Linked DNA regions of Homo sapiens: region 2 is linked to region 1. The links come from fine-mapping of genetic effects on gene expression. A gene starts in region 1. The other region holds a variant in brackets. All regions are shown on one strand. Distances are between the middles of the regions. Region 1 holds the start of PGAP6 (post-GPI attachment to proteins 6). Region 2 overlaps AXIN1 (axin 1).

The links. PIP is the estimated chance that this variant, and not a neighbour inherited with it, causes the effect.
Region 2: its variant is fine-mapped to the expression of PGAP6 in thyroid (GTEx, PIP 0.99).

The regions. Positions count from the first base shown.
Region 1 is chr16:376,958-391,885 of GRCh38, forward strand. PGAP6 (post-GPI attachment to proteins 6) reads right to left here and starts at 5,021. Exons shown (of 13, transcript NM_021259.3): 1 at 4,744-5,021; 2 at 714-891; 3 at 421-628; 4 at 80-207. The coding sequence starts at 4,864. It overlaps LOC100134368 (a long non-coding RNA gene), which reads left to right and starts at 5,284. Exons shown (of 3, transcript NR_024453.2): 1 at 5,284-5,520; 2 at 6,333-6,472; 3 at 14,810-14,928. It also overlaps the pseudogene RPL23AP5. RefSeq lists an enhancer at 4,114-5,013 and silencers at 4,448-4,567, 4,698-4,847, 4,888-5,117, 5,138-5,487, 13,527-13,704.
Region 2 is chr16:330,560-345,487 of GRCh38, forward strand. All of the region lies in intron 2 of AXIN1 (axin 1), which reads right to left. Among named protein-coding and RNA genes, the nearest start is that of AXIN1, 15 kb to the right of the region's middle. RefSeq lists enhancers at 5,670-5,964, 8,899-9,623, 10,906-11,457. The variant C/T (reference allele first, on the strand shown) is at 4,227.

The DNA.
Region 1 (14,928 bases):
CAGGCTCTCGCACCCACTCCACCGAATCTGAGAAGGGGCCGGAGGGCAGAGCCGGGCTGCCCCCCAGGCCCCCGCTCACTTGAGGTAGCTGGGATGGGAGAGGAGGGTCTGAGGAAGGGGCACGTCCGGCTCCATGATGGAAATCTCGACCACCCGCGTGACCAGCAGTTCAGGCTGGAAGACGTAGGCACAGGTGGGAGCCAAGCCCTAGGGAAAGAACAGGTGTGGGCGGGGGCGGTGTCAGAGAATGCAGGTGTGAGGGCATGGTCTCACCAGACGCCCCCGGCATGCAGGGAGCAGGGCTGGCCCCAGAGTGCAGCGTGGAGCCTAGAGCGAGGACCACCCCAAAGAGGTGAACGGCAGGGACAGGCCATCGCCGCAAGGTTCTCTGCCTCCATCCCGGAGGGCAGCCCCCCTCACCTTCAACTCGATCTTCTGGGATGAGGGGGGCAGGTGGGCGGCCACGAACCAGTCCCCGGGGGCCGGGTGGGAAACGTTGACGGAGGCATTGCTTCTCGGTGTGGTGCTCAGCGGCACCCCGACCTGGAAGGAGGGCTGTACCGCGGTGTCGTCCGGGAAGCTGGTGCCCAGCGGGTTGATGACCGGAGGGGCGCCGGAACGGAAGTGCCTGGAGACGGGAGAGCAGCACCGGGTTCAGGCACAGGGCTTGGCCAGGCGCGGGAGGGTGGGCAGGCGGGCGGGCAGCCACCTACACGGTGATCTCCGCGTCGGTGCAGGCAGCGCCGCTCTCCCGGGAGACCTGCAGGAGCCAGCGTAGAAGCACAGCATCTGGGGGCACGCGGAAGCGGAAGAGCCTGGCACTGCCGTACCAGCTGTAGAAGGACAGCCTCTGCGGGGCCTGCGAGAAGTGCTCGGACACCAGCCCCACCTCTGTGAGGAGAAGGAGGTGTCAGCCAGGCCGGGACCCTCCTCCAGGGCCGCAGATGGGGAGGACGAGTCCCCCAGATGGAAAGGGCTGGAAGCCCCCGGGGACCCACCTGGAGATCTTGGCACACCAACTCTGACCTTGGCAAAGGTCACCGACACCCTCTGGCCCCTCAGCCAGATCCTCTGCTGTCCCTCCCCAGATGGCCTACATCCCACCCTCCTGGCATCTGGGTCTTTTCACAGCTGCCGCCTCACTGCAGCAGCTTCCAAACAAGCCGCAGGGTACCTCAGCAGCCATCGCCACCCTGACTGCCATCGCCACCCGCACTGCCATCCCCACCCGCACTGCCATCGCCACCCTGACTGCCATCGCCACCCTGACTGCCATCGCCACCCGCACTGCCATCCCCACCCGCACTGCCATCCCCACCCACACTGCCATCGCCACCCGCACTGCCATCGCCACCCGCACTGCCATCGCCACCCGCACTGCCATCGCCACTCTGACTGCCATCCCCACCCGCACTGCCATCGCCACCCTGACTGCCATCGCCACCCGCACTGCCATCGCCACCCACACTGCCATCCCCACCCGCACTGCCATCGCCACCCACACTGCCATCGCCACCCGCACTGCCATCGCCACTCTGACTGCCATCCCCACCCGCACTGCCACCCGGACCCCCTCCAACCTTAGAAGACTACACTCCCCATGGCCAACCCAGGTCGAAGCCGAAGGACCCAGCAGGTGTCAGGAAGGAGCCCCCGCCCCTCATCACAGATGCCCTGGATATCAAGGCACGGTCCTCCCACCTCCTCTCAGCCTCCCACATCTCCATCCCTGGATGGGTTGGCTGCCTGCTTGGGCTATGATGACTTTGGACACGGCGAGACCGGAGCCCAAATTCCCCTTACCCAGAGGGAGATACTGCATGTGGGAGGGACCCAGGCCAGAAGCCTGGCCAGTCATGAGAACAAGGGGACAGCTGCCCTCTGCGTTCCAAGCGGGCAAGGCTCCTAACTGTCCTCAGGGAACGCACCCACGCCTGGTGCGGGGATGGAGAAGGGCCCGTGGGAGACATCCTGCTCATGGCCCCAGGCGAGGACTCAGGCTCTCACCCCCAGCCCCCCGTGCCAGCTCCAGCCTCGTGCCCTTGCGACCTTGGGCATCCTTCCCTCCCTGGGTCCCAGCCTTCTCCTGGGTAGGTCAGGGCGGAGGGCACATCCCTTTGGGGGCCCCTCCCTCCGAGGTTAATTAACGACAAAGGCTTCAGAAGGAAAAGCACAGTGGACACAGCAGGGGGCGGGACCCTCCCCTCTGCTGCAGCTCCCCCTCCCCACACACTCAGGAGCGCTGCCTAGGTCTCACTGGAGAGTGGCTGGCTCAGGCCCAGGCCCCTCCTGAGGAGGGAGACAGGTGAGCAGCAGGCTCTCCTGCCAGCCTCGTGACCCTCCCATAGAGGCACCAGAAGAAACGATACACCTGCCAATAGCAGCCTGTCGGCAAATCCAGGCCAAGCTCCAGGGGAACCTGGCGTGGCGACTGGGCAGGGGCTGGCCAGGCTCCACCCACGACGCACTCCAGGCTTTCCAGGTGTCTGCTGGCCACCAGGTCCCACCCACCAGGCTGTGGCCTGATAATGTGGGCAGAGAAAGCTCAAGTGCTGGGAGCTGAAGCAGGACAGCCCCCCAGGACCACGGTGTCCCGGAGAAAGCCGGCCTCTGCGGGGGCAGGCAGGGGAGGCCACCTGCAGCACACACAGCCCCTGGGCTGCTGGGGCAAAGCCCTCAGCCCCTCTGGCCCTGGAGCGCCAGCCTGAGGGCACCTAGAACCCAGCTGGTGGCTGTGAAGTTTCAGCAGGTACACAGAGATAAGAGATCTGTTCAAGGTTGTCCTAACACCCAGTCCCCGACTCCCAGGGCTCACAGCCCCTCCAGGCCTCTCCCAGGGCTCTGCAGCCCAAGCTCCCTGCCCAAGTTGCCCACACATACCAGGCTGTTAGGGGTGCTCTGAGCCGAGGTGACCACAGGGTGAGGAGGGCCAGCTACACAGCCCCCTGCCTGCCCCACAGCCCCTCCACGGACACAGGGCTGGGTGGGGAAGGTGGTAATGCAAGTCCCTGGCCCTGTCCTGGGAACCTGAGTGAAGACCCCAGACCCACGTCCTCCAAACCGGGACAGGCACCCATGGGAGACCCTGACCACCCACAACGCCACAGAGCACTTACTCCTCGGCAGGCTGGGAGGAGTGAGGGGCTGAGCCAGCACACCAGGCCTCTCCACTGTCCACACACAGGGGTTCCATCTCCCAGGAACCCCTCACCAGGCCTGAGTTCTGGGACAGGAGAATTTCCTTTGCCAGTTTCCAACGGAGTAAGGTTTTGGTATTTCTGAGGGTCTCACTCTGTCACCCAGGCTAGAGTGCAGTGCCATGAACACGGCTCACCGCAGCCTCAGCTTCCTATGTAACTGGAACCGCAGGCTTACATTACCACACCCAGGTTATTTTTTTTTCTTTCTGTCTTTCTTTTTTTTTTTTGAGATGGAGTCTCGCTCTGTTGTCCAGGCTGGAGTGCAATGGAGCGACTTCGGCTCACCGCAACCTCTGCCTCCCGGGTTCAAGCGATTCTCCTGCCTCAGCCTCCCGAGTGGCTGGGATTACAGGCATGCGCCACCACTGCCGGCTAATTTTGTATTCTTAGTAGAGAAGGGGGTTTCTCCATGTTGGTCAGGCTGGTCTCGAACTCCTGACCTCAGGTGATCCACCCGCCTCAGCCTCCCAAAGTGCGGGATTGCAGGCGTGAGCTTCGCGCCTGGCCATGGAGCAATTTAATCCGGGGCACGGTCCTCGGGGAAAACTGCCTTTCATCTCTACCTGTGCCAAGCTCAGAAAGCAGGAGGCACAGCCCCCGAAAGAAACAGGAGCTCAAAGGAGCATTATTTCAGGGGCAGGGGAGGGGAGGGGCTGGGGGCCGGGAAGTCGGGGAACAGCACCGCATCAGCTGCCGGGCACCTGGGCACCCGCGTGGCTGGGGACGTGTGGGAACTTCCAGCCGGCCAGAAAGGACACGGCCCCTCCAGAGTCCCAGGCCACAGAGGCCGGGGCAAGTCCTCACCATCTCAGGGTGGCCAAGGCCTGACGGTCTCCACACCCACGTCCCTACCCCGTGGAAGGGCTACGCCTTCTCCCTGGTCCAGCCGCCTCCTTGGACCTCAGTCAGGGACGGGGACCCTCAGGGAACAGAAATGCAAAGGGAGCCCGGCGAGTTTCCCAACAAGAGGGGAGAGGGGCGCCCTTTCCTCAGCCCCTCTTCCGCCAGCTGGGAGTCCCTCCTCCCAGAAGCCGGGCCGGCGGCAGGAAGCGGCCGTACCAGGGCTGGGGGTCACTGCGGAAGGGCTGGAGCCATGACGCCCACGGGCCCCCGCTACAGGGTCTAACAACTTTCTCCCGGCTCTGCCCCTCTCTCAGGCCGGACCCGGCCGGTGAGCTCACGGCCCAGCCACTCCTCCCAGCTGGAGTCCCGGGCAGAGTCCCCTGGGCCCCTCCACTTCCCCGCGCCGGGCGCGCCGGACCTGGGCGCTCTGGGAGGAGGAGGGAGGGGAGGGGGCGCTCCAGGGGCCGATGTGGCCCAACCCCGATCGGGGGACCGAGGAGGAAGCGCGGGGTCCCGTCCGCCTCGACCCCTAGGACACGAAGCGCCCCAAAGGGCCACTGTGCACCCCCAACCCGCGGCGGGGACCCCCAACCCCGCGCCGGCGCCAGATGAGCGCACAGGTGCGCCCGGGGTGTCACAATCCCGCCCCGCCCGCAGCCCCGGCCCCACGCCCCCGATGGCGCCCGCGCCTCCCGCTCACCGCTCTTCCCGCTGTAGCCGGCGGAGGCAGGCGGGGGCCGGGCAAGCAGCAGCAGCAGCAGCGGCCCCGCCACCACCGCGGCCACCGCCTCGCCCCCGGTCCCGGTGCCAGCCCGGCCCATGGCTCCGCGCTCGGCCCGGCGCTACCCGGCCCGCGTCCCGCGCCGCCGGCCCCCGCCGCCGCCCGGGCAGCCTCTGCCGCCTCCGCCTCTGCCGCCTCCGCCTCTGCCCCCGGCGCCCATGGCCCGGCCGGTCCCCGCCGCCGTCGCCCCGGGCACTTCCGCCCGCAGGCCCCGCCCCGCAGGCCGAGCCGGGAAGGCGAGGGCGGGGTCGGGGGGCGGGACCGGGGGGGGCGCGGACGCCGGGGGGAGGGGTCACGTGGGGCGCCGGTAGGGGGGAGGGGTCACGTGGGGCGCGCGGGGGACGGACCGGGGCGCGCGCGGTCCGGGGGGACGCTGGAGGGAGGGCGCGGGATGGAGGGATCGCGGGGGTCCCAGGACGGAGAGGTCGCGCCGGGCGCGCTCGGAACACGCAGGAAATTCTCCCCGAGGCGTGGGCTCCGCGGGGCTTCCCCGCCGGTTCGCTGAGTCCCAGCTCCGCTCGGCCGGGACCTCCGTGGCAGGCTCGGGGAGCCCGCGGGGGGCAGAGGCGCCGACCTCCGCCTGGGACCGAGAGGAACCCGCGCCCTGCCCTGCCCCGCCCGGCGCGCGTGGGCCTGAGTCAGGCGCCTCAGCACGGGGACCCCCGGGCCGGCCTTCACGCCGCAGAGCCGCTGCAGGTGCGTGTCAGATCCACGCTTTTATGCACAGACGAGAAGGCTGCTTGTGTTTAGGGACTGTAGTACCCGATCGGGGTGGCGGTTCACACGGGTGCGTGGCATCAACTCCCGGCGCTTTGCACCTGGATGGATTCCCACCATGTAAGATTTGAGCCGAAAAAAGGAAGCGATAAAGCCTAGAAAACTCGGGGAAGCTTTTTCCGTCTTAGGGCCAAGTCGGCTTTTCCAAGCGTGGCACAGAGTCCAGAAGTTCCGCCGCGTCGTGGGTGGGAGGGGGGTGGGGGCGTCTGCAAAGCCAAACTGCATAAGCGAAGTCCAAAAGACGAGCCCCCGACTGGGAGGTGGGGGACACAGCTTGCAGCTCACACCGCAGAGCTCACCTTAATAAGACTAGTAACAGTGCAGTAATAAACAGCTCTAAATCAATCACAGAAACGCTCCCCTAGAAAATACTGAAGGACAGCTGCCAGGGATACGCTGATCCTCCTCCCTCAGCGCAGAAATGCAAATTAAAAACTACTCCAGCTACTCCGGAGGCTGAGGCCAGAGAATCGCCTGAACCCGGGAAGCGGAGGTTGCAGTGAGCCGAGATCGCGCCACCGCACTCCAGCCTGGGCGACAGAGCGAGACTCCGTCTCAAAAAACAAAAACACAAAAACAAAAACAAAAACAAAAAACAAAACACTAAAGTGTCCTTCCCAGGATGTGAGGGTAAAAAGTTTAAAAAAAAAAAAAATTAAAGGAAAACCCCATTAAAGTGACTTCTTTTTCCTTTCACCTAACACATTGGCAAATAAAAACTGTACTAACAGGTGAGACTGTGGCCCACAGACACTGCTTGCAGCAGGCAGAGGATGTGGGAGCCTCGTGGGAACCCCCCCGACTTGTCCACTGAAGTAACAGCAGCAATGACCTTCCCTCGGGAATTCCACCTCTGCGTTTTTCCCTCCAGGTACGTTCACGGAAGTGGCACACTGCATGCGTCCAGTGAGTCAATGTGGCACCGCCTACATGCGTGTCACTGGCCGGTGGGACATTCAAATCATTCATACGGGGTCTAAACGAGACAGAGCGTGGCCGAGACAGGAAAGACAGGAAGCGCTGTGCTGCTTGGAAATGGTCCACCAGGTGCAGCAGTAGCTGCAAGAAAGGAACAGGAAGAACGGTGTGTTCAAAGCTCTACCATTTGTGTAGAAAAGGGAGAAAAACACGTTTCCTTTGTGTGTGTCAAAGGCATCGAATGTCTGGAATGATCCAGCACCGGCTACACTGGTTGACCTTGGAGGAGGAGAGGCGGGGTGGGGATGGGGATGGCCGCAGGGACCATACCTGTTTGTACCTTTTGAACGCCGCAGCGGGTGGTGAGGGTTTACGGAGCGGGGGAGGGGAAGCTGACTCCACGAGCCCAGACCCCTGAAGGCCAGAGCAGCGGAGGTGGAGGGTGTTGGCCGGGGAGGAAGGAAGCCCCGGCTGAGCCTTAAAGAGACCCTTTGTTTCCCGGGAATCCCAGCTGGGCCGTCCTCAGCCCCGACTGAGGGGAAAGGGGGGCTCCCAGGGGTTCTCATTTTAAAGGCACGGAGGTCAGATTGCAGATTTTGCTGAGCCGTGATTTGAGTGTGCTGTGCCGGACTGCACCCAGCAACCAAGGTCAGCACCAGCACCCAGGACTGCTCCAGACCCAGTCCCTGCTCCAGGCTGGGCCCAAGCCCCCCTCCTCCCACTGCCCTCCCCTGAGTGAGTCACCTTAGTCTGAGGTTCCTGTGCCCCAAGTCACCCACCGGAGAGGGAGAGAAGCGGCAGAGCCCCCACTTCCAGTGCTCCAGCTGAGGGCTGGTGAACTTGAAGGTGGGTAAGAATCCCCAGACGGAAGTCCAGAGACGTCTGCTAAGTCACAGAGTGTTGGCAATGGAGAGACTCTTCTGTAACAGGAAACACAGCTCAGTCAGGCTACTGGTCAGGGAAACAAAACAAGCCACTTTGTCAAAAAACAGCCACGCAGCCCTTGCCACAACAGATGCTCACACTTTGCTGGCAGGCATGTGAACCCCCTCAACCTTCTGAAAATTATTGTGCCAACATTAAAATGTAATGGAGAGGGCCGGGCGCGGTGTCTCACGCCTGTAATCCCAGTACTTTGGGAGGCTGAGGCCGGCGGATCACGAGGTCAGGAGATCGAGACCATCCTGGGCTAACATGGTGAAACCCCTTCTCTACTAAAAATATAAAAAGTTAGCCGGGCGTGGTGGCAGGTGCCTGTAGTCCCAGCTACTCCAGAGGCTGAGGCAGGAGAATGGCGTGAACCCAGGAGGTGGAGGTTGCAGTGAGCCAAGATTGCGCCACTGCACTCCAGCCTGGGCGACAGAGCGAGACTCCATCTCAAAAAAAAAAAAAAAGTAACGGAGAGGCCGTACGCGGTGGCTAATGCCTATAATCCCAGCACTTTGGGAGGCTAAGGTGGGCGGGTCACCTGAGGTCAGGAGTTTAAGATCAGCCTGGCCAACATGGCGAATTATTTTTGTCTCTACTAAAAATATAAAAATTAGCCAGGCATGGTGACATGAGCCTGTAATCCCAGCTACTCAGGAGGCTGAGGCAGGAGAATCACTTGAACCCGGGAGGTGGAGCTTGCAGTGAGCAGGGATCAGGCCACTGCACTCCAGCCTGGGCAACCAGAGCAAGTCTCCATCTCAAAAAAAAAAAAAATGTAATGGAGAACACTAAGGCCTAGAGACAGACACACAAGGATGTTTGCAGCAGAACTGCTTGTATTTGGAAAAACCTGGGCGCTCCATGAGGGCAATGGGTAAATAAATCATGCTATAATATACTCTGATTTTTTTTTTTTTTTTTTTTTTGAGACGGAGCCTCACTGTCGCCCAGGCTGGAGTGCAGTGATGCGATCTCGGCTCACGCAAGCTCCACCTCCCGGGTTCACGCCATTCTCCTGCCTCAGCCTCCCGAGTTGCTGGGACTACAGGCGCCCGCTACCATTCCTGGCTAATTTTTTTTGTTTTTAGTAGAGATGGGATTTCACCCTGTTAGCCAGGATGGTCTCGATCTCCTGACCTCATGATCCGCCCGCCTCGGCCTCCCAAAATGCTGGGATTACAGGCATGAGCCACAGCGCCCGGCCTACTCTGATTTTTTTTTTTTTTTTTTTTTTTTGAGATGGAATCTCGCTCTGTCGCCCAGGCTGGAGTGCAGTGGCGCGATCCTGGCTCACTGCAAGCTCCGCCTCCCAGGTTCACGCCATTCTCCTGCCTCAGCCTCCCGAGTAGCTGGGACTACAGGCGCCTGCCAACACACCCGGCTAATTTTTTGTATTTTTAGTAGAGACGGGGTTTCACCATGTTAGCCAGGATGGTCTCGATTTCCTGACCTCGTGATCTGCCCATCTCAGCCTCTCAAAGTGCTGGGATTACAGGCGTGAGCCACCGCGCCCGGCCTACTCTGAATATTTATGCAACTTTTAGATGGGTCTATAAATGTGTCTTCAGAAGGAATGTCAGTAAAGTGAAAAATCCAGTTGCTGGATAACAGGGACGCATCGTATTTCCAAACAAACAGGAAGACCCTCAAGCCCCCTCCCCAGGTCCCCCTCTAGTGAGCCTGGGTGAGGGTAGACTCCAGCTGCCTGCAGCCTGGCCGGAGGGGAGGGTTGCTGGGTGTGGGAGCAGCTTTCCACAGTCGGTGTGCTCTTCGCCCAGCAGCAATAAGCATTATTATAGTTGTCTTGGATAAAAATATCAAAAGTTAAATAAAAGCAAAAAAAAAAAGCCGTAATCCAATTTTCTCCAAATAACCACCCTGTGCACCTCCTGCAAATGCTTCCTGTGTGCAAGACTGTGTGAGGACCCCTCTCTCTCTGTGGACACTCTCCCAGGCTCTGCAGGTTGAAAGGAGTTTCCCTCTGTCTGTTCATGGCCACCTGGTAGACATGGGAGACCCTGTCTTCCCACTCCGCCCCGAGTTTCCTGAGGGCAGGAGATGGGTCTCTCTCACTCTGTGGTCAGGCAGGAGGAGTGCAGACCGTAACCCTGTCTTTCTGACCCAGTGCCCTAACCTGTCAGCATGAACCACACCACAGGTGCCCAGACATCAGAGTTTCACAGACAGAAATAGTTTCCCCAGAGTTTTGGGGCTTTTTTAGGCTCAACTATCATGCATTATTATTCTTTCATAAAAAAAGGGTCATTTTCCCAGCCTGGGCAACATGGTGAAACCCAGTCTCTACAAAAAAAAAAAAACCAAAAAAAAAAAAAAAAAAAATTGGCCTTTTCACAAGATGGCGCTGAAAGCAAAGAAGGAAGCTCCTGCCTCTCCTGAAGCCGAAGCCAAAGCGAAGGCTTTAAAGGCCAAGAAGGCAGCGTTGAAAGGTGTCCACAGCCACATAAAAAAGAAGACCCGCACGTCACTCACCTTCCAGCGGCCCAAGACACTGCGACGCCGGAGGCGGCCTGAATATCCTTGGAAGAGCACCCCCAGGAGAAACAAGCTTGGCCACTATGCTGTCATCAAGTTTCCGCTGACCACGGAGTCGGCCGTGAAGAGGACAGAAGAAAACAACACGCTTTTGTTCACTGTGGATGTTAAAGCCAACAAGCACCAGATCAAACAGGCTGTGAAGAAGCTCTATGACGGTGATGTGGCCGAGGTCACCACCCTGATTCCGCCTGATGGAGAGAAGAAGGCATGTGTTCGACTGGCTCCTGATTACGATGCGTTGGATGTTGCCAACAAAATTGGGATCATCTAAACTGAGTCCAGCTGCCTAATTCTAAATATATATATATATATATCTTGTCACCATAAAAAAAAAAATTGTAGCCAAGCATGGTGGCATGTGTGTCTGTAGTCCCAGCTACTCCACAGCCTGAGGCAGGAAGATCCCTTGAGCCCAGGAGGTCAAGGCTGCAGTGAGCCAAGATCGCACCACTGCACTCCAGCCTGGGTGACTGAGCGAGACCCCATCTCAAAAATAAATAAATTAACTAATTAAATCATTCAAGGGCTGGGGACGGTGGCTCACACCTGTAATCCCAACACTTTGGGAGGCAGAGGCGGGTGGATCACAAGGTCAGGAGTTCAAGACCAGCCTGGCTAATATGGTGAAAACTGTCTCTACTAAAAATACAAAAAACTGGCACGCACCTGTAGTCCCAGCTACTTGGGAGGCTGAGGCAGGAGAATCGCTTGAACCCGAGAGGTGGAGGTTGCAGTGAGCCAAGATCACATCACTGCACTCCAGCCTGGGTGACAGAGCAAGACTCCGTCTAAAAAAAAAAAAAAAAAAAAAAAGGAAAGGTCATTTCCCAATCCAAAAAAGTAGGAAGTATGTACCCTTTTTGAAGGGGATCTGCTCCTCCACACCTGTGGGTATTTCTCGTCAGGTGGGACAAGAGACTGAGAAAAGAAATAAGACACAGAGACAAAGTATAGAGAAGGAAAGGGGGGCCCAGGGGACCGGCGCACTCAGCCTGAGAGGACCTGCAGGGGCGCTGGTCTCTGAGTTCCCTCAGTATTTATTGATCATTATTTTTACTATCTTAGCGAGGGGAGTGTAGCAGGCCAACAGATGGAGAGAAGGTCAGCAGGGAAACATGTGAGCAAAGGAATCTGTATCATGAGTGAGTTCTAGGAAAGGTACTGTGCCGGGATGTGCACATAGGCCAGATTTATGTTTCACTTTACATAAACATTTCAGTGTAGCGAAGAGTAACAGAGCAGTATTGCTGCCAGCATATCTCGCCACCAGCCACAGGGCGGTTTTCTCCTATCTCAGAATAGAACGAATGGTCGGCTTTACACCGAGACATTCCATTCCCAGGGACAAGCAGGAGACAGAAGCCTTCCTCTTATCTCAGCTGCAAAGAGGCCTCTCTCCTTCACTGCTCCTCCTTAGCACAGACCTTTTTACGGGTGTGGAGCTGGGGGATGGTAAGGTCTTTCCCTCCCCACGAGGCCATATCTCAGGCTGTCTCAGTGCGGGGAAACCTTGGACAACTCCCAGGCTTTCTTGGGCAGAGGTCCCTGCGGCTTTCCGCAGTGCACTGTGTCCCTGATTAATCGAGAACGGAGAATGGCGATGACTTTTACCAAGCACACTGCCTGCAAACAAATTGTTCACAAGGCACATCCTGCACAGCCCTGAACCTATTAAACCTTGATTCAACACAGCACATGTTTCTGTGAGCACAGGTTTCTGTTAAAATTACAGGTTAACAGCATCTCAAAGCAGAAACAATGTTTCTTAGTACAGATCAAAATGGAGTTTTCTACATAGACACAGTAACAATCTCATCTCTCTTCTTTTCCCCACACTTTTTTTTTTCTTTTGAGACGAAGTCTCACTCTTGTCCCCCAGGTTGGAGTGCAATGGCGCGATCTCAGCTCACTGCAACCTCCGCCTCCCAGGTTCAAGCGATTCTCCTGCCTCAGCCTCCTGAGTAGCCGGGATTACAGGTGGACACCATCATGCCCCGCTAATTTTTGTATTTTTTAGTAGAGATGGGGTTTCATCATGTTGGCCAGGATGGTCTTGATCTCCTGACCTCAGGTGATCCGCCCGCCTCGGCCTCCCAAAGTGCTGGGAATGACAGTTCAGTTTTTTGTTGTTTTACATTCAGTCCAGCTTTTTGTTGTTGTTTTACGTTCAGCGGATGGCAGTAGACGGGTTTTTCTTTTTCCTTTTTTTTTTTTTTTATTGAGACAGGGTCTTGCTGTGTCGCCCAGGCTGGAGTGTAGTGGGAACATGGTGGCTCCCTGCAGCAATGGCCTCCTGGGATCAAAGGATCCCCCTGCCTCAGTCTCCCAGGTGATTACAGGCCAGCACCAGCACGCCCAGCAGTGGTTCTTATTTATCCCCATTTTGTCTGAGCAAATGAATGCCTGTCCTGGGTGTGGGTGCGAGTGAGCTGGAAGATGAAGGGCATGGGCAGTGACCGCACAGCGCTCAGCCTGCAGGGAGCCTGGGGTGAGTCCAGCAGCACTGGAGCGCGGAACCACAGCAGATGTCCTTGTCCCTTCCAAGGGGTGGGAACAAAGGTGACAGGGACAGAGATGGCTGCCGGGGTAGGAGGCCCAAGAGTTGCTCTCTGCTGAGAAGGCTCCCCTTGGTGTCCCTCAGAAGTGTACCTGGGCGGGCCGATGGGACTGGGACTGAGGCTGTGCTCCTCCTACAAGGAGGGGCCCACTCTTCCTGGATCTCCCTGCAGTGACCTCAGCAGAGGTGAAAGAGGTCTAGCCGGGCACAGTGGCTCACGCCTGTAATCCCAGCACTTTGGGAGGCTGAGGCAGGCGGATCACCTGAGGTCAGGAGATCGAGACCATGGTGAAACCCCGTCGCTACTTAAAATACAAAAAAAATTAGCAAGGCGCAGTGGTGGGCACCTGTAGTCCCAGCTACTCGGGAGGCTGAGGCAGGAGAATGGCGTGAACCGGGGAGGTGGAGCTTGCAGTGAGCTGAGATCCCGCCACTGCACTCCAGCCTGGGCGACAGAGTGAGACTCCGTCTCAAAAAAAAAAAAAAGAAAAGAAAAAGAAAGAGGTCTAGCCTGTGTACACGTGGAAATCCAAGAGGACAGGGAAGACAAACTGAGACAGAAAAAAAATATGTGAAGAAATACCCCAAATTCTAAAATTCGGTGAAAGGCATTCATTTACAGATTCAAGCAGCTTAGTGAAGCTTAACAAGAATCAATGCAAAGAAAACCATAGCCAATTACATCATAGTCAAACTGCTGGAAAACGAACTTATAGAGAAAATATTGAAAGCAGACAGAGAAAGATAACACATTATAGTCCAGGGAACAATTGAATGGCATAACTTCCCATTAGAAACAATGGGGTCCAGGGCCGAGGGCTGTGGCCACGCCTGTAATCCCAGCACTGTGGGAGGCCAAGATGGGAGGATCAACAACAGCTTCATGGTTTCTAACGGGAGTTCAGGCGCGCACCACTACACCCACCTAATTTTTAAAATTTTTTTGGGCCGGGCGCGGTGGCTCTCGCCTGTAATCCCAGCACTTTGGGAGGCCAAGGCAGGCAGATCACGAGGTCAGGAGATCGAGACCATCCTGGCTAACACGGTGAAACCCCATCTCTACTAAAAATAGAAAAAATTAGCCGGGCATGGTGGCGGGCGCCTGTAGTCCCAGCTACTCCAGAGACTGAGGCAGGAGAATGGTGTGAACCTGGGAGGCGGAGCTTGCAATGAGGCGAGATTGCGCCACTGCACTCCAGCCTGGGCGACAGAGCGAGACTCCGTCTCAAAAAAAGAAATTTTTTTTGTAGAGACAGGGTTTTGCCATGTTGCCCAAACTGGTCTCCAACTCCTGGCCTCAAGGGATCCACCTGCCTCGGCCTCCCAAAGTGCTGGGATTACAGGCGTGAGCCACCGCGCTCAGCCAGAATAAACATTTTTTTCAAGCGCACACAATTTGTTTTCCAATACAGATCACATGCTGGGCCATAAACCAAGTCTCAATTAATTTAAAATAGTTTAAGTGGTAGAGAATATGTCCTCTTTCATTAATTAATTTATTTATTTATTTATTTTGAGACGGAGTTTTGCCCTTGTTGCCCAGGCTGGAGTGCAATGGCTCAATCTTGGCTTGCTGCAACCTCCGCCTCCCGGGTTCAAATGATTCTCCTGCCTCTGCCTCCCGAGTAGCTGGGATTACAGGTGCCTGCCACCATGCCCAGCTAAGTTTTGTATTTTTAGTAGAGACGGGGTTTCACTGGTTGGCCGGGCTGATCTCGAACTCCTGACCTCATGACCCGCCCACCTTGGCCTCCCAAAGGGAATATGTTCTCTGACCACAGTGGAATTAAGTTAGAAACCTGTAACAATAAGATATCAGGCTGGGCACGGTGGCTCACGCCTGTCATCCCAGCACTGTGGGAGGCTGAGGCAGGCGGATTACGAGGTCAGGAGATTGAGACCATCCTGGCTAACACGGTGAAACCCCGTCTCTACTAAAAATACAAAAAATTAGCCGGATGTGGTGGCGGGCGCCGATAGTCCCCGCTACTGGGGAGGCTGAGGCAGGAGAATCATTTGAACCTAGGAGGCAGAGCTCGCAATAAGCCAAGATCATGCCATTGCACTCCAGCCTGGGCGACAGAGCGAGACTCCGTCCAAATAAATAAATAAATAAATAAATATTTAAAAAAATAAAACAGGTGAGAGACCTCCATGTAGGGCAATGCCCTCCCTACATGGGTGTAACAGTCGTAGGGCTGGGACAGAATTCAGCTGTCCTGATCCCCCCGCTGTCCCACCCTGCAGGTATCTTTTTGAGCACCTTCTACAAGGACCATCCAGCACATCCATAGGAATGTTCCAGAAATCCACGGCCGTGCTCAGCCCTGATTCCTCACTCCACCTCATCCTCAGTCAGGCTCTGG
Region 2 (14,928 bases), 46 kb before region 1:
CATTGAATTCAGTTTTGTGCTGCTCACTGCCACATTTCTTCAATGTCACAAAAGTCTCTTCAGAGCCTGGAACTGCACAAATGGCTTCACATCACATTTTTAGGTTCACAAGGATCTGATGAGAAACACTTTATGTAATGAAGAGTGGTAACATTTAAAAAGTAGAACAAAAAAATGTTTTATGCTTTCCTCCCCAGGAGACACTAGCACCCTCACTCCAGCCTTCACCCCTGGAGCAGAAGCCCCCAGGAATTTACTGGTTCCAAAGAACAGCCAATGACCTTTCACAAGCTCAGATTATCTATGCTGCAACAAACATTTGGAAGTGGCAATTCCCAGCAAATTGCAGGCAATTTAGAGTCATTTGCCAAGATGCAATCTGCCCTATTGCTCCAGGGTCTTTACAAAGGCCAGCCAGACTGCAGCCCTTGCAGACTGCAGGGTGGCAAGTCTCACGCCAGCCTCAGAGCCTCCTCAGCAGAAGTCTGAATACATCACTTACCCAGAACCAGGTTGCCGGCTTACAGTCATGGTCCCTGAATCCTGCATAAAACTCACCTGAAGGAGACCAGCTCTCAGTGCTGAAGCTACAAGACGAAAATAACAACTTCTGAAAGCCACGTCTTATTAAAAATTAAAACACTGGACACTTATCAATCTAGTTAAGGTAAAAATTCTGTACATGAAAAAAAAAATTCTGTACATGAAGCACTCTGGTTTGTTCCCTTGAAGTAATTTAGAAACTGCAAGTTCCAAGCTGGGTCTACCCTCTTTATGACATTCTCAGGGATCCTGGAGCCCTTCCCTGGGCTGACAGCTCATGGACGTCCCTAACACTCCAAAGCAGCTGTGTCCAGTTTCCTTGACTCTGAGTGTGCAGCAGGAAGAAGCCTCTGTCTGGAAAGAAACACTCTGAGGCAGAAATAGAAAATCTTTATTTTTATGAGATATTTAATTTTTTTCTGCTTCTTTTAAAAGGAGTTTCACTTTACCCAAATGAAAGAAACGCAACCAACTCATGAGAATCTATCAAACACTCCTATCAGCGTATAGAATGCACAGCAGTAAGCGGACGCATAACAAAGCCAAAACAAAAACTGCCTGGACTGCTTTTATTTGCAAACTTTTTTGTTCACCATGGAAATGCTTTATCTTTGTGGTATCTCCAACATAACTCCACACTGCACCACGAAGCTATAAATTCCAAAGCTAATGGAATTTCCAAGCAAAGGTGCAAGCCTGACACTGCATGAGGGGCCCTCACGCCAGTGCCTCTACTTACGTCACCCTCAGATCTCCACACAGGCGCACCTCGGCCACTAGTCTGACCCCCAGCCTCGCTGAGCCCCTGCTCAAAAGCGCTGTTTCCAGGCCTGTGGGTTCCAGAGACCACGGTGACTAAGGGCCCGACCCTGACTACAGCAGATGGGAAGTTACTTAATCTCCCAGGGCCTCAGTTTCCACATGGATGGCATGACACTCCCACACCTCGTTAGGGGCTCGCGGATGGCCTGACGCCTGACACAGGCAGTGCGAGAGTCCACAGGTCGGCAGCCTTCAGCAGCGACAATGGTCCCTGACAGTCCTCTGTTCACAGCTCCTGCAGATGGTGGTGGACCAGCAACAACTGAGGGCCCCACGGTCCAAGGACAGTTTAGAGAACTCGCAGCAGCAACATCACAATCACAAGTAAAGCATATTTAACTTTTAGAAACAGGATATAAAACCTGCAGCCAGGCTGGGCGCGGTGGCTCACGCCTGTAATCCCAGCACTTTGGGAGGCCAAGGCGGGCGGATCACGAGATCAGGAGATGGAGACCATCCTGGCTAACACAGTGAAACCCCATCTCTACTAAAAATACAAAAAATTAGCTGGGCGTGGTGGCGGGCGCCTGTAGTCCCAGCTCTAGGGAGGCTGAGGCAGGAGAATGGCGTGAACCCGGGAGGTGGAGGTTGCAGTGAGCTGAGACCGTGCCACTGCACTCCAGGCTGGGCGAAAGAGCGAGACTCCTTCTCAAAAAAAAAAAGAAAACAAAAAAAAAATTACACTTAACATCTTAACATCTCCAGAAAGATTTTGATCTAAACAATGTTGATCTAAACCAAAAAAAAAAAAAAAAAGTATAATTTTTTGAGTGTATATTCAGAAAGCAAGGGCAGGAAAAAAATGTATTGAAAAGATATGAAAACACAACAAAAAGAAATGCAAAATATATGAAAGATTTAAAATTTAAAGGATCACTCTAAATGGTCCAAAATCTAAATAAGATCTCAAATAAGTTCTAAAATGAGAAATGGTAAAGATGGAGAGAAGGAATTATCAAAGAAATAACATTTCTGGCCAGATGCAATCAATGGCTCACACCTGCAATTTCAACTCTCTGAGAGGCCAAAGTAGGAGGAGTGCTCAAGGCCTGGAGCTTGAGACCAGCCTGGGCAACACTGGGAGACCTTGTCTCTACAAAAAACTGTAAAAAAATATTAGCGAGGTGGGCCGGGTGCAATTGCTCACGCCTGTAATCCCAGCACTTTGGAGGCCGAGGCAGGCGGATCACCTGAGGTCGGGAGTTTGAGACCAGCCTGACCAACATGGAGAAACCCCATCTCTACTAAAAATACAAAATTAGCTGGGTGTGGTGGCGCATGCCTGTAATCCCAGCTACTCAGGAGGCTGAGGCAGGAGAATTGCTTGAACCCGGGAGGCAGCGGATGCAGTGAGCCGAGATCGCACCACTGCACCCCAGCCCGGGCAACAAGAGCGAAATTCCATCTCGAAAAAAAAAAATTAGTGGGGTGTGCTGGTGCCTATAGTCCCAGCTACTCTGGAGGCTGAGGCAGGAGGATCGCTCAAGCCTTTTTTTCCAGACTCGCCTCAGAAAAAAAAAAAAAAGAAAAGAAACAAATACCATTTAAACTCCAGAATTAAAGGACAAGTTTCTTCAGCACGATGAAAGAAAAAAGCCCCCAGCAAAACACAGTATTATGAAATAACACTGTTGATAAAGAAAACATCCAAAAAATGTCTGGAGGGAAGAAAAAAAGCACCATCCACACCGTATGAAGAGAATGGAGCCAGGTCTTTCCAGGGCAGCTCAGAAAAACAGAAGGTGATGGTGCAAATTCCTCTAAATTTATGGGGGGGGTGCCACCCAACCTAAATTCTAAACCCAACTCATCTCTCCTTCAAGTTCTTTTGGCATGAGCGCATAACACCAGTACCACAGCACAACAGTAACACAGCACGAGGTACCACAGCATGCCAATAACACAGCACCCAGTACCACAGCACACCCAGTACCATGGCACCCAATACCACAGCACACCAGTAACACAGCACCAGGTACCATAGCATGCCCATAACACAGCACCCAGTACCATACCATGCCAATAACACAGCACCCAGTACCACAGCACAGCAATAACACAGCATGCAGTACCATGGCATCCAATAACACAGCACGCAGTACCACAGCACCCAGTACCATAGCATGCCCATAACACAGCACCCAGTACCAAGGCACACCACTAACACAGCATCCAGTACCACGGCATGCCAATAACACAGCACCCAGTACCACGGCATGCCAATAACACAGCACCCAGTACCATGGCACACCAATAACAGCACCCAGTACCATGGCATGCCAATAACACAGCACCCAGTACCATGGCACGCTAATTACACAGCACCCAGTACCACAGTACACCAATAACACAGCACCCAGTACCACAGCATGCCAATAACCCAGCACCCAGTACCATGGCACGCTAATTACACAGCACCCAGTACCACAACACACCAATAACACAGCACCCAGTACCACAGCATGCCAATAACCCAGCACCCAGTACCATGGCATGCTAATTACACAGCACCCAATACCACGGCATGCCAATAATGCAGCACCCAGTACCACGGCAAGCTAATTACACAGCACCCAGTACCACAACACACCAATAACACAGCACCCAGTACCACAGCATGCCAATAACACAGCACCCAGTACCATGGCACACTAATTACACAGCACCCAGTACCATGGCACACTGATAACACAGCACCCAGTAGCACAGCACGCCAATAATGCAGCACCCAGTACCATGGCATGCTAATTACACAGCACCCAATACCACAGCACACCAATAACATAGCACCCAGTACCACAGCATGCCAATAACACAGCACCTAGTACCACAACACACTAATATCACAGCACCCAGTGCCA[C/T]AGCATGCCAATAACACAGCACCCAGCACCATGGCATGCCAAAAGCAAACCATCCAGTACCATGACACGCTAATTACACAGCACCCAGTACCATGGCACACTAATTACACACCACTCACTAGAGAGAAACACTCTGAGGCAGAAATAGAAAATCTTTATTTTTATGAGATATTTAATTTTTTTCTGCTTCTTTTAAAAGGAGTTTCACTTTACCCAAATGAACCAAACGCAACCAACTCATGAGAATCTACAAAACACTCCCATTGGCGTATAGAATGCACAGCAGTAAGTGGACACATAACAAAGCCAAAATAAAAACGGCCTGGACTGCTTTTATTTGTAAACTTTTTTGTTCACCATGGAAATGCTTTATCTTTGTGGTATCTCCAACATAACTCCACACTGCACCACGAAGCTATAAATTCCAAAGCTAATGGAATTTCCAAGCAAAGGTGCAAGCCTGACACTGCATGAGGGGCCCTCACGCCAGTGCCTCTACTTACGTCACCCTCAGATCTCCACACAGGCACACCTCGGCCACTAGTCTGTACCAGGACACACTAATAACACAGCACACAGTACCACAGCATGCCAATAATGCAGCACCCAGTATCATGGCACGCTAATTACACAGCACCCAGTACCACGGCACACTAATTACACAGCACCCAGTACCACAGCACACCAATAACATAGCACTCAGTACCACAGCACGCCAATAACACAGCACCCAGTACCACGGCACACCAATAACATAGCACCCAGTACCACTGCATGCCAATAACACAGCACCCAGTACCATGGCACCCAATAACACAACACCCAGTACCATGGCACCCAATAACAGCACCCAGTACCACTGCGCCCAGTTACACAGCATGCCAGTACCACACACACCAGCTCCAAGGCACCCAGTACCACAGGATGCCTAAAGAGTAACTGTTTCAACCAGAGTGGGAATATGGAAGACTTCAGGACACATGTCTTCCAGAGAAAAAATACTTTATCCAAGAGGTTTTACAGTGAGGAGAAGAATATTCACAAGCACTCTATTGAGCTGAAGAATATGGGAAGATTTAAGTTGGAAAGTAAAATATTTAATCAAATGAAAAAAACGGCCATTATTAACTCAAAAACAAACACACAAAATTGTACAGGAAAGAAAATGGCCAGGCGTGGTGGCTCACGCCTATAATCCTAGCACTTTGGGAGGCCAAGGCAGGGGGATCACTTGAGGTCAGGAGTTCGAGACCAGCCTGGCCAACATGGTAAAACCTGGTCTCTGCTAAAAATACAAAAATTAGCTGGGTGTGGTGATGCACGCCTGTAATCCCAGCTACTCGGGAGGCCGAGGCAGAAGAATTTCTTGAACCCAGGAGGCGGAGGTTGCAGTAAGCCAAGATGGTGCCATTGCACTCCAGCCTGGGATACAAGAGCAAAACTCCGTCTCAAAAAAGAAAATGATTGACCCACTTGGCTCAGAAGTGAAAGCACCATGCCCTGGTGCATGAACACCTCAGGGTAGGGGTGAGACAGGAGAGCAGCAGAGCTCTCAAAGAGCCAGTGGACACAAGATAGCAGTGAGCACGTTACTCAGAAAAGGCACTAAGGACCGAACCGTGTCGCCCAATTAATATGTGTCAGCCCTGACCATCACGTGGCTGTGCTTGAAGTAAGGAAGTGTTATTGTTAGATGAGAACGCAAACGTGGGGCCCTGACCCAAGAGGGCTGGTTCCCTAAAAGAACAGACACCAGCTGGGCGCGGTGCCTCACACCTGTAATCCCAGCACTTTGGGAGGCCAATGCGGGCAGATCACGAGGTCAGTCCAAGACCAGTCTGGCCAATATGGTGGAACCTCATCTCTACTAAAAATACAAAAATTAGCCAGGTGTGGTGGCGCATGTCTGTAATCCCAGCTACTCAGGAAGCTGAGGCAGGAGAATCATTTGAACCCAGGAGGCGGAGGTTGCAGTGAGCTGAGGTTGCACCACTGCACTCCAGTCTGGGCAACAGAGCAAGACTCCGCCTCAAAAAAAAAAAAAAAAAACAAAACATAAATACAAGAACTTAACCAGGTGTGGGCCAGGCACAGTGGCTCACGCCTGTAATCCCAGCACTTTGGAAGGCCGAGGCTGGTGGATCACAACGTCAGGAGATGGAGACCATGATGGCTAACACGGTGAAACCCCGTCTCTACTAAAAACACAAAAAAATTAGCCGGGCATGGTGGCAGGCGCCTGTAATCCCAGATACTGGGGAGGCTGAGGGAGGAGGAGCTCTTGAGCCTGGGAGGGAGAGGTTGCAGTGAGCTGAGATCACACCACTGCACTCCAGCCTGGGTGACAGAGCAAGACCCCGTCTCAAAAAAAAAAAAAAAAAAAAAAAAAAAAGACACATTTACGTGTATCCTTTTTAAAGAAAAAATGTGCTTTTGAATAGCTGCATATTTTAAAGCTTTTATTCTTTTAATAATATACTTTCTAATTATAAACATGCTGTTATAGGAATTTGGAAAATACAGAAAAACAAAGAAAAAAATTAAAAGCCCACATATCCAACTGTATGAATGCCACTGGGCATTCAAGTCATCCTATTTGCTGGAATATTACAAGCAGCACTCCTTAGGGTTATTTTAAATGTTTGTTTAGGAGCAGACACCAATCCCATAGACTACAGGTGAGCTAGTAAAGATCCAGAGTGGGTCAAAACCAAAAAAAAAAAAAAAAAAAAGCACTGGAGCAACCTCAAAGGAGGCAGGAGGGTGAGTGCCATGAGCAGGGCACAGGACCAAGCAGCCCACTGCAGCTCACAGTGAGGACAGCGCCTGCCAGGACACCCGGACGCCCAGCTACCCGGCCACCTGGCCACCTAGCCAGCTGAGCCAAGAGCTGAGCCCATTTGCCAGCAGATGCTTCAACGGATCACAAAGGAAGCCCGTGGGCCGAGGCTGCAATCCACACAAGCCAGCGTTCAACTCCGGACAGGGCCCAGGGTCCTTGCTGGAGGAGAAGGGGCATGGAATCTGGGCCCTATGGGCACTCAGCCGGGCGTGCGGCCTCTGGGGGCCCCCTGGACGCCACAGCAGTATGGCAGAGCTGTGTGTGTTTTCACAGAGCCCTGTGACCAGTCTCCATCTCTCAGGGAGTGGAGAGACCGAACACCTTCTGGAGCTAATGGGTTCTGAGAGAACCCTGAGTGGTTATTCTCACAGATGTGACACGGGGAAAAACTGAGGTGAAGCTGCTTCCCTCCACACGCACAAGTAGGCAGCGGAGGGGCCCAAGAAAGAGCCAACAGGCGGCCCTCTCTCCCTGACAGCCACCATAGCCCAGCCTGGCCCCCACCTCCGATAACTGCAGGGTACGCTGCTACAAATGACGTCTGCGTTTGACAAGGATGAGCAGAACCGGAGCGTGTGCGTCAATTCAAATCTGTGACACTGGCGCAAAATGTGAGAATGGGCTGGGGTGCCAGGCGGCCAGTCACGGCTAGGGCACAGTTCCAAGAAGGGCCACAGGGGCCCGCAGGGACACTTACCCCAAGCCCTCCAGAAACAGCTGCTGCAGGTCAGCACCAGCACCAGGGCCAGGCACACAGTCTCATCGGCACGTCTGCCACTGGCTGTCTGCAAAGTGCTTCCCTTTCACAACCCACCCACACAGCTCAGGACTGAGGTCCGCCCAGGCAAAGGGGCCTCTCGGTTCCAGAATCCTTTGGCCTGACAGGCAACTACAGATACTTTCGTGGACTCTGCTGAAACCTGTCTGAGACTATGGAGCTTTACGTGGCTAAGGAAGAGAAAAAATATGTTTGGAGTCCTTGCCCACTGACAGGTGCATAAAAATACAAGATGGACTGGGCACAGTGGCTCACGCCTATAATTCCAGCACTTTGGGAGGCCAAGGTGGGCGGACCACTTAAGGTCAAGATTTCGAGACCAGCCTGGCCAACATGGCGAAACCTTGTCTCTACTAAAAATACATAAAGTAGCCAGGAGTGGGGGCATGCACCTGTAATCCCAGCTACTCGGGAGGCTGAGACTAGAGAATCACTTGAACCTGAGAGGCAGAGGTTGCAGTGAGCTGAGATCGCGCCATTGCACTCCAGCCTGGGTGACAAGAGCGAAACTCCATCTTGGGGAAAAAAAAAAAAAGTGGGATGCAAGCTGGTGCTGTGGGGACAGAGTCCAGCAGAGCACCAGCAGAGTCCAGCAGAGTCTGGGATTACAGGCATGAGCCACCGTGCCTGGCCAGGAATCATTTTTAAAGTTTTCCTTGGACATCCACAAACAAAAAAAATTTCCCTTTGGGCAGGGTGTGGTGGTTCACACCTGCAACCCCTGCACTTTGGGAGGCCGAGACGGGCAGATCACTTGAGGTCAGGAGTTCAAAACCAGCCAGCCTGGTCTCAAAAAAAAAAAAAAAAAAAAAAAAAGGCCGGGCGTGGTGGCTCACACCTGTAATCCCAGCACTTTGGGAGGCTGAGGTAGGCGGATCACAAGGTCAGGAGATCGAGACCATCCTGGCTAACAAGGTGAAACCCCGTCTCTACTAAAAATACAAAAAAAAAAAAAATTAGCCGGGCGTGGTGACACGCGCCTGTAGTCCCAGCTGCTGAGGAGGCTGAGGCAGGAGAAGTGCTTGAACCCAGGAGGTGGAGCTTGCAGTGAGCCAAGATTGTGCCACTGCACTCCAGCCTTGGCGATAGAGCGAGACTCCATCTCAAAAAAAAAAAAAAAAAAAAAATTAGCCAGGCATGGCGGCAGGTGCCTATAATCCCAGCTACTGGGGAGGTTGGGGCAGGAGAACTGCTTCAACCTGGGAGGCGGAGGCTGCAGTAAGCCGAGATGGTGCCACTGCACTCCAACCTGTGTGACAGAGCAAGACTGTCTAAAAAAAAAAAAAAATTCTCTTCAGATCTGCTCAAACAGGGGAAGCAAATACCCCAAAGGAGACTAGAAACCCCCCACACCCAGGCAAGGGGAGCCCACGCAAGGGGCAGTATGGCTCACAAGCACCTCTGCCCCCTCTGCACCACAGCAGAGGTCCCCTTAACAAGACAAGCCTGGGGGCGACCCCACCCTGGGCCACACCCTTTGCACAGGAAGCAGAGTTCACCCTTGCAACACAGCCCCTCTGCAGCCGGGCACCTTCAACAGCACCACCGCCTGAGGTCCAACGGACATGGAAACCCAAAACCACTCCTCCACAGACAACTCTGTACACATTTTGGGCCCTTTCTTTTTCTTCTTCTTCTTCTTCTTTTTTTTTTTAACCATTTCTTCTCTTAACCTTTTAGGCCATTACCAGAAACACAGTCAATAAACTAATGAGCAGGTCCGACGGTTCCTCACGCACCCCTGCGGGAACCTGAACGGCAAGGGCTGGCTGCCCACCTCGAAAGGACCCACCGGTCCTCTGAGCAGCTCCAGGAACCAGCAGCCCAAGACAAGCCACCATGTTGCTCCTGCTGTGGACATGTCTGTTGTCCACTCTCTGGCCACAGCCACATTGACCAGCCCTATCCACAAGTGCATCACTGGACTGGCCCGGGAAGACACACGAAAATATCCAGGAAGACCCTGTCCCCAGTCATCAAGGAAGGTCAGGGCAGTCAACAGAAGGGGCCAGCGGCGAGGAGACTGCGGGCTTGACCAAGCGGACCTGGCAGGGGCATGCAAGGCCAGCCCTGAAGGCCACCTGGTGGGCCAAGCCACCCTGAAGGGAAGCAGAGCCTGAGCCCGCCAGCCAGGGAGTGCAGGCCCTGGGCCTCCCGCCCAACACTCAGTCAACAGCAGAACCTGCCTGCTGATCCACACCGCTGAAATGACGAGGTGAACCAGCCAGCTCTGTTCAAAGTTCCACTGACAATGGGAACAAAGACCCGAGGGTGCAGAAAGTGTTCCCACAGAGGCAGAGCGGGGGAGCCAGGGAGGAACCCCATGAAACCTTGGCCCAGGAGCTCAAAATGACAGTGGGTGAGTGGGACAAACACAGAAAAGGGCCAGGAATGGAGCTCTTTCCTAGGCTGAGACAAAGACCTAAGCAGAACACTTCACTTTCCTCAAATCAAGTATGTGAAACCACCACGCGGCTCACACACGGACCAACAAGGACCCGCACTCAGGCGTCCCACAGGGGAACTGGATGCCTGTGGCCGTGCTGGACCGCAGCAGCCCCACCGCAGGGGATGAGCGACTGTGGCAGAGATGCAGGCAAAGTAGCCTCCAGGACAGAGGGGTCAGCACCCGAGGGCTGGCCCTCCTGGCACGTTCCTCCACGCAAATTCCACCCCGGTGAGAGGTGACAGCGTGCTGGCAGTCCTCACAGCCCTCGCTCGCTCTCAGCGCCTCCTCTGCCTGGGCTCTCACTTTGGTGGCACTTGAGGAGCCCTTCAGCCCACCACTGCACTGTGGGAGCCCCTTTCTGGGCTGGCCAAGGCCGGAGCCGGCTCCCTCAGCTTGCGGGGAGGTGTGGAGGGAGAGGCGCGAGCGGGAACCGCGGCTGCATGCGCTTGCAGGCCAGCTGGAGTCCCGGGTGGGCGTGGGCTTGGTGGGCCCGGCACTCAGAGCAGCCGGCCAGCCCTGCCGGCCGCGGGCAATGAGGGGCTTAGCACCCGGGCCAGCGGCTGCGGAGGGTGTGCTGGGTCCCCCGGCAGTGCCGGCCCACCGGAGCTGCGCTCAATTTCTCGCTGGGTCTTAACTGCCTTCCTGCAGGGCAGGGCTCGGGAGCTGCAGCCCGCCATGCCTAAGCCCCCCACCCCCTCCGTGGGCTCCTGTGCGGACCGAGTCTCCCCGACGAGCGCCCGGTCCCATTGACCACCCAAGGGCTGAGGAGTGCGGGCGCACGGCACGGGACTGGCAGGCAGCTCCACCTGCAACCCCGGTGCGGGATCCACTGGGTGAAGCCAGCTGGGCTCCTGATTCTGGTGGGGACGTGGAGAACCTTTATGTCTAGCTCAGGGACTGTAAATACACCAATCGGCACTCTGTATCTAGCACAAGGTTTGTAAACACACCAATCAGCACTCTGTGTCTAGCTCAGGGTTTGTGAATGCACCAATCGACACTCTGTATCTAGCTACTCTGGTGGGGACTTGGAGAACCTTTGTGTGGACACTCTGTATCTAGCTAATCTGGTGAGGATGTGGAGAAGCTTTGTGTCTAGCTCAGGGATTGTAAACGCACCAATCAGCGCCCTGTCAAAACAGACCACTGGACTCTACCAATCAGCAGGATGTGGGTGGGGCCAGATAAGAGAATAAAAGCTGGCTGCGGGAGCCAGCAGTGGTAACTCGCTCGGGTCCCCTTCCATAGTGTGGAAGCTTTGTTCTTTCTCTCTTTCCAGTAAGTCTTGCTGCTGCTCACTCTTTGGGTCCACACTGCCTTTATGAGCTGTAACACTCACCGCGAAGATCTGCAGCTTCACTCCTGAAGCCAGTGAGACCACGAACCCACCAGAAGGAAGAAACTCCGAACACCTCCGAACGTCAGAAGGAACAAACTCCGGACAGGCCGCCTTTAGGAACTGTAACACTCACGGCAAGGGTCCGCGGCTTCATTCTTGAAGTCAGTGAGACCAAGAACCCACCAATTCCGGACACACCGGGACGACTAACCGGCTCTCCACAGGATATGCATCCCCTAACACGTGAGGCCTAAGCTCCAGGCCCTGCTGTGGTAGCAATGCTCACCAGCCGCCTGTTCAGTACCCACTCTCCTTTTCCCTTTGCATTACCCGCAGCCTTCCTTTGGAGGACTGCCCCCAGCTCCCCACTGGGGAGCAGCCGTCTGTCTGGGTGGAGAACCCACTTTCCTTCAGGAGTGACCCTGCTGCACAGCCCCCAGCGCACGCACCGTGACTGTGCTGAGACAGACGGGACACAGCGGCACACGTGCCCTCCTCAGAGCAACAGCGGGCCCATCCGTCAGAGCTGCGGGAAGCATCTGTAAACAAGGGAGCCCAGAGCCCAAGGTCACTGCAGCAGCCACCTCCAACACAAAGCCCACGAAGTCGCCCACCAGGCAGGCAAAGTCAGAATGGCACAAAGCAAAGGTGCCAGGCCCTAAGGCACACCTGAGGCTCTGCCTCAACAGTGCCCTTCAGGGTTGGGCTCAGGTGGGTGGGTTTCCACGACTTCCAACCTAGTGCACCCTCACCTACACCTGGCAGGACAAAGAGAATGGTCTAAATGTGAGGAACGCAGCCTGGACTTCATGCCCTGTCTGTGCTGACAAGCAACCATTCCAACATCAGAGATCTTCAAGCCACAAGGCTGCACCACAGGCCACCTCCCACAGAGAGGATTCAACCGCAGACACGACTCCCAAGCCCCAGGGTCCTCTGCCACCAGCAGCCCCAGAGCAGTCAAGTTAGGACCCAAACTGTGTAGACAGAGCTACACAAAATTAGACAGGAGAAGCCAATGTATCCCACTAATTTCATAGCAAAGGTTCCTTATTACAAATACAGCAAACCAAGGACAGACAGCAAAGCTACTGCTCGCAGCCAAGAACTGAAGAGTGGCTGGGAGGGAGGCACTGGGGTTCCAACAGTGGAAATCAGAACGGAGCTCATTTTCCTCCTGCAGCCCAGCCCTCAACTTCAGTCCCATCTTAAAAATAACCAGCCGGGGCCGGGCGCAGTGGCTCACACCTGGAATCCCAGCACTTTGGGAGGCTGAGGCGGGCAGATCTCTTGAGGAAAGGAGTTCGAGACCAGACTGGCCAACGTGGTAAAACCCCATCTCTACTAAAAATACAGAAAATTAGCTGGGCATGGTAGCTCACACTTGTAATCCCAGCTACTCGGGAGGCTGAGGCAGGAGACTCACTTGAACCCAGGAGGCAGAGGTTGCAGTGAGCTGAGATTGCACTACTGCACTCCAGCCTGGGCGACAGAGCGAGACTCCATCTCAAACAAAAAAACAAGCAAAAAAAATAACCAGCCAGGTGCAGTGGCTCCCACCCGTAATCCCAGCACTTTGGGAGGCTGAGATCACTGGAGTCCAGGAGCTCGAGACCATCCTGGCCAACGTGGCGAAACGCTGTCTCTACCACAAATACAAAAATTAGCCAGGCATGGTAGCACACACCTGTAATCCCAGCTACTCGGGAGGCAGGAGAATCACTTAAACCCAGGAGGCAGAAGTTGCAGTGAGCCGAGATAGCGAGATAGTGCTACTGCACTCCAGCCTGTGTGACAGAGCGAGACTCCATTTCAAAAAAAAAAAAAAGAAAGAAAGAAAGAAACTCTCAGTTTATACCAGGCTTACTCAACAGGATAACTTTGCGGCATATTGTGTCCTAAAATGCTTGCTAAATAAATACCACTTGGCTAAAGACAATGAACAAAAGGGAAAAAAGGCCGGGCGTGGTGGCCCACGTCTGTAATCCCCGCACTTTGGGAGACTGAGGCAGGCGATCACGAGGTCAGGAGATCGAGACCATCCTGGCTAACATGGTGAAACCCAGTCTCTACTAAAAATACAAAAAATTGGCCGGCATGGTGGCGGGCGCCTGTAGTCCCAGCTACTTGGGAGGCTGGGGCAGGAGAACGGCGTGAACCTGGGAGGCGGAGCTTGCAGTGAGCCGAGATGGCGCCACCGCACTCCAGCCTGGGCGATAGAGCAAGACTCCATCTCAAAAAAAAAAAAAAAATTAACCAATTAACCTACACAATCCTTTTTTGTTTTTTTTTTGTTTTTTTTCTGAGACAGAGTTTCACTCTTGTCCTCTTGTCGCCCAGGCTGGAGTGCAATGGCACAACCAAGGCTCACTGCAACCTCTGCCTCCCAGGTTCAAGCGATTCTCCTGCTTCAGCCTCCCGAGGAGCTGGGATTACAGGCATGCGCCAACTCGCCTATCTAATTTTTGTATTTTTAGTAGAAATGAGGATTCACCACGTTGGCCAGGATGGTCTCGAACTCCCGACCTCAGGTGATTCGCCCGCCTCGGCCTCCCAAAGTGCTGGGATTACAGGTGTGAGTCACTGCGCCCAGTCGACAGTCCATCTTAAATCGTATCACTTAGACTACAAGTTTAACCTTAGACATGTTTAATCCTGTGTTGATGAGCGAGTAGCCAATTTCTGTGTCACAGTAAGCTTGAAGAACTAATGCGAGTTTTTAATAACTCCTCAGGAGAGTCCCAGCACATGGGGCTGTGCTTTCGGAGTCTTGATTAGGTCAGCAGGGGTCACATGAATTCCAGGCTTTCAAAGTTACACAGGCCGGAGCCTCCGGTCACCAGCTCTAGGGAAAGAGTGGGAAATGCATGCGCTCTGCTCACAAGCACAGTAGATGCCAGCCCGAAAGCCAAATAAACCTCCAGGAACCACGCAGGGATCACAGGGAAGGAAGAACGAAGAAACAGGTTCCAAGGCTGAGCACCACTCTGCTCCCTCCCAGGCAACACACGCACCCCACAGGCCCTGCCAGGATCGCCTCAGGGTCCAGGCTGCTGTGGACTACACAACAGCACCAACAGATTTTGTTGGCAGGAAAAAAGGCCCAATCCTGGAATGCCCACTATAGCCACAGGAAGTTTTCAAAGTACTCTGACCATTCCCCACACGTAAAACGTCCCCCCTGCTATTTCTCAGCCTGTAGGAAGAAGCTTAGAAGATCATTATAAAAGCAATAATCTGGCCGGATGCGGCGGCTCACGCCTGTAATCCCAACACTTTGGGAGGCCGAGGCAG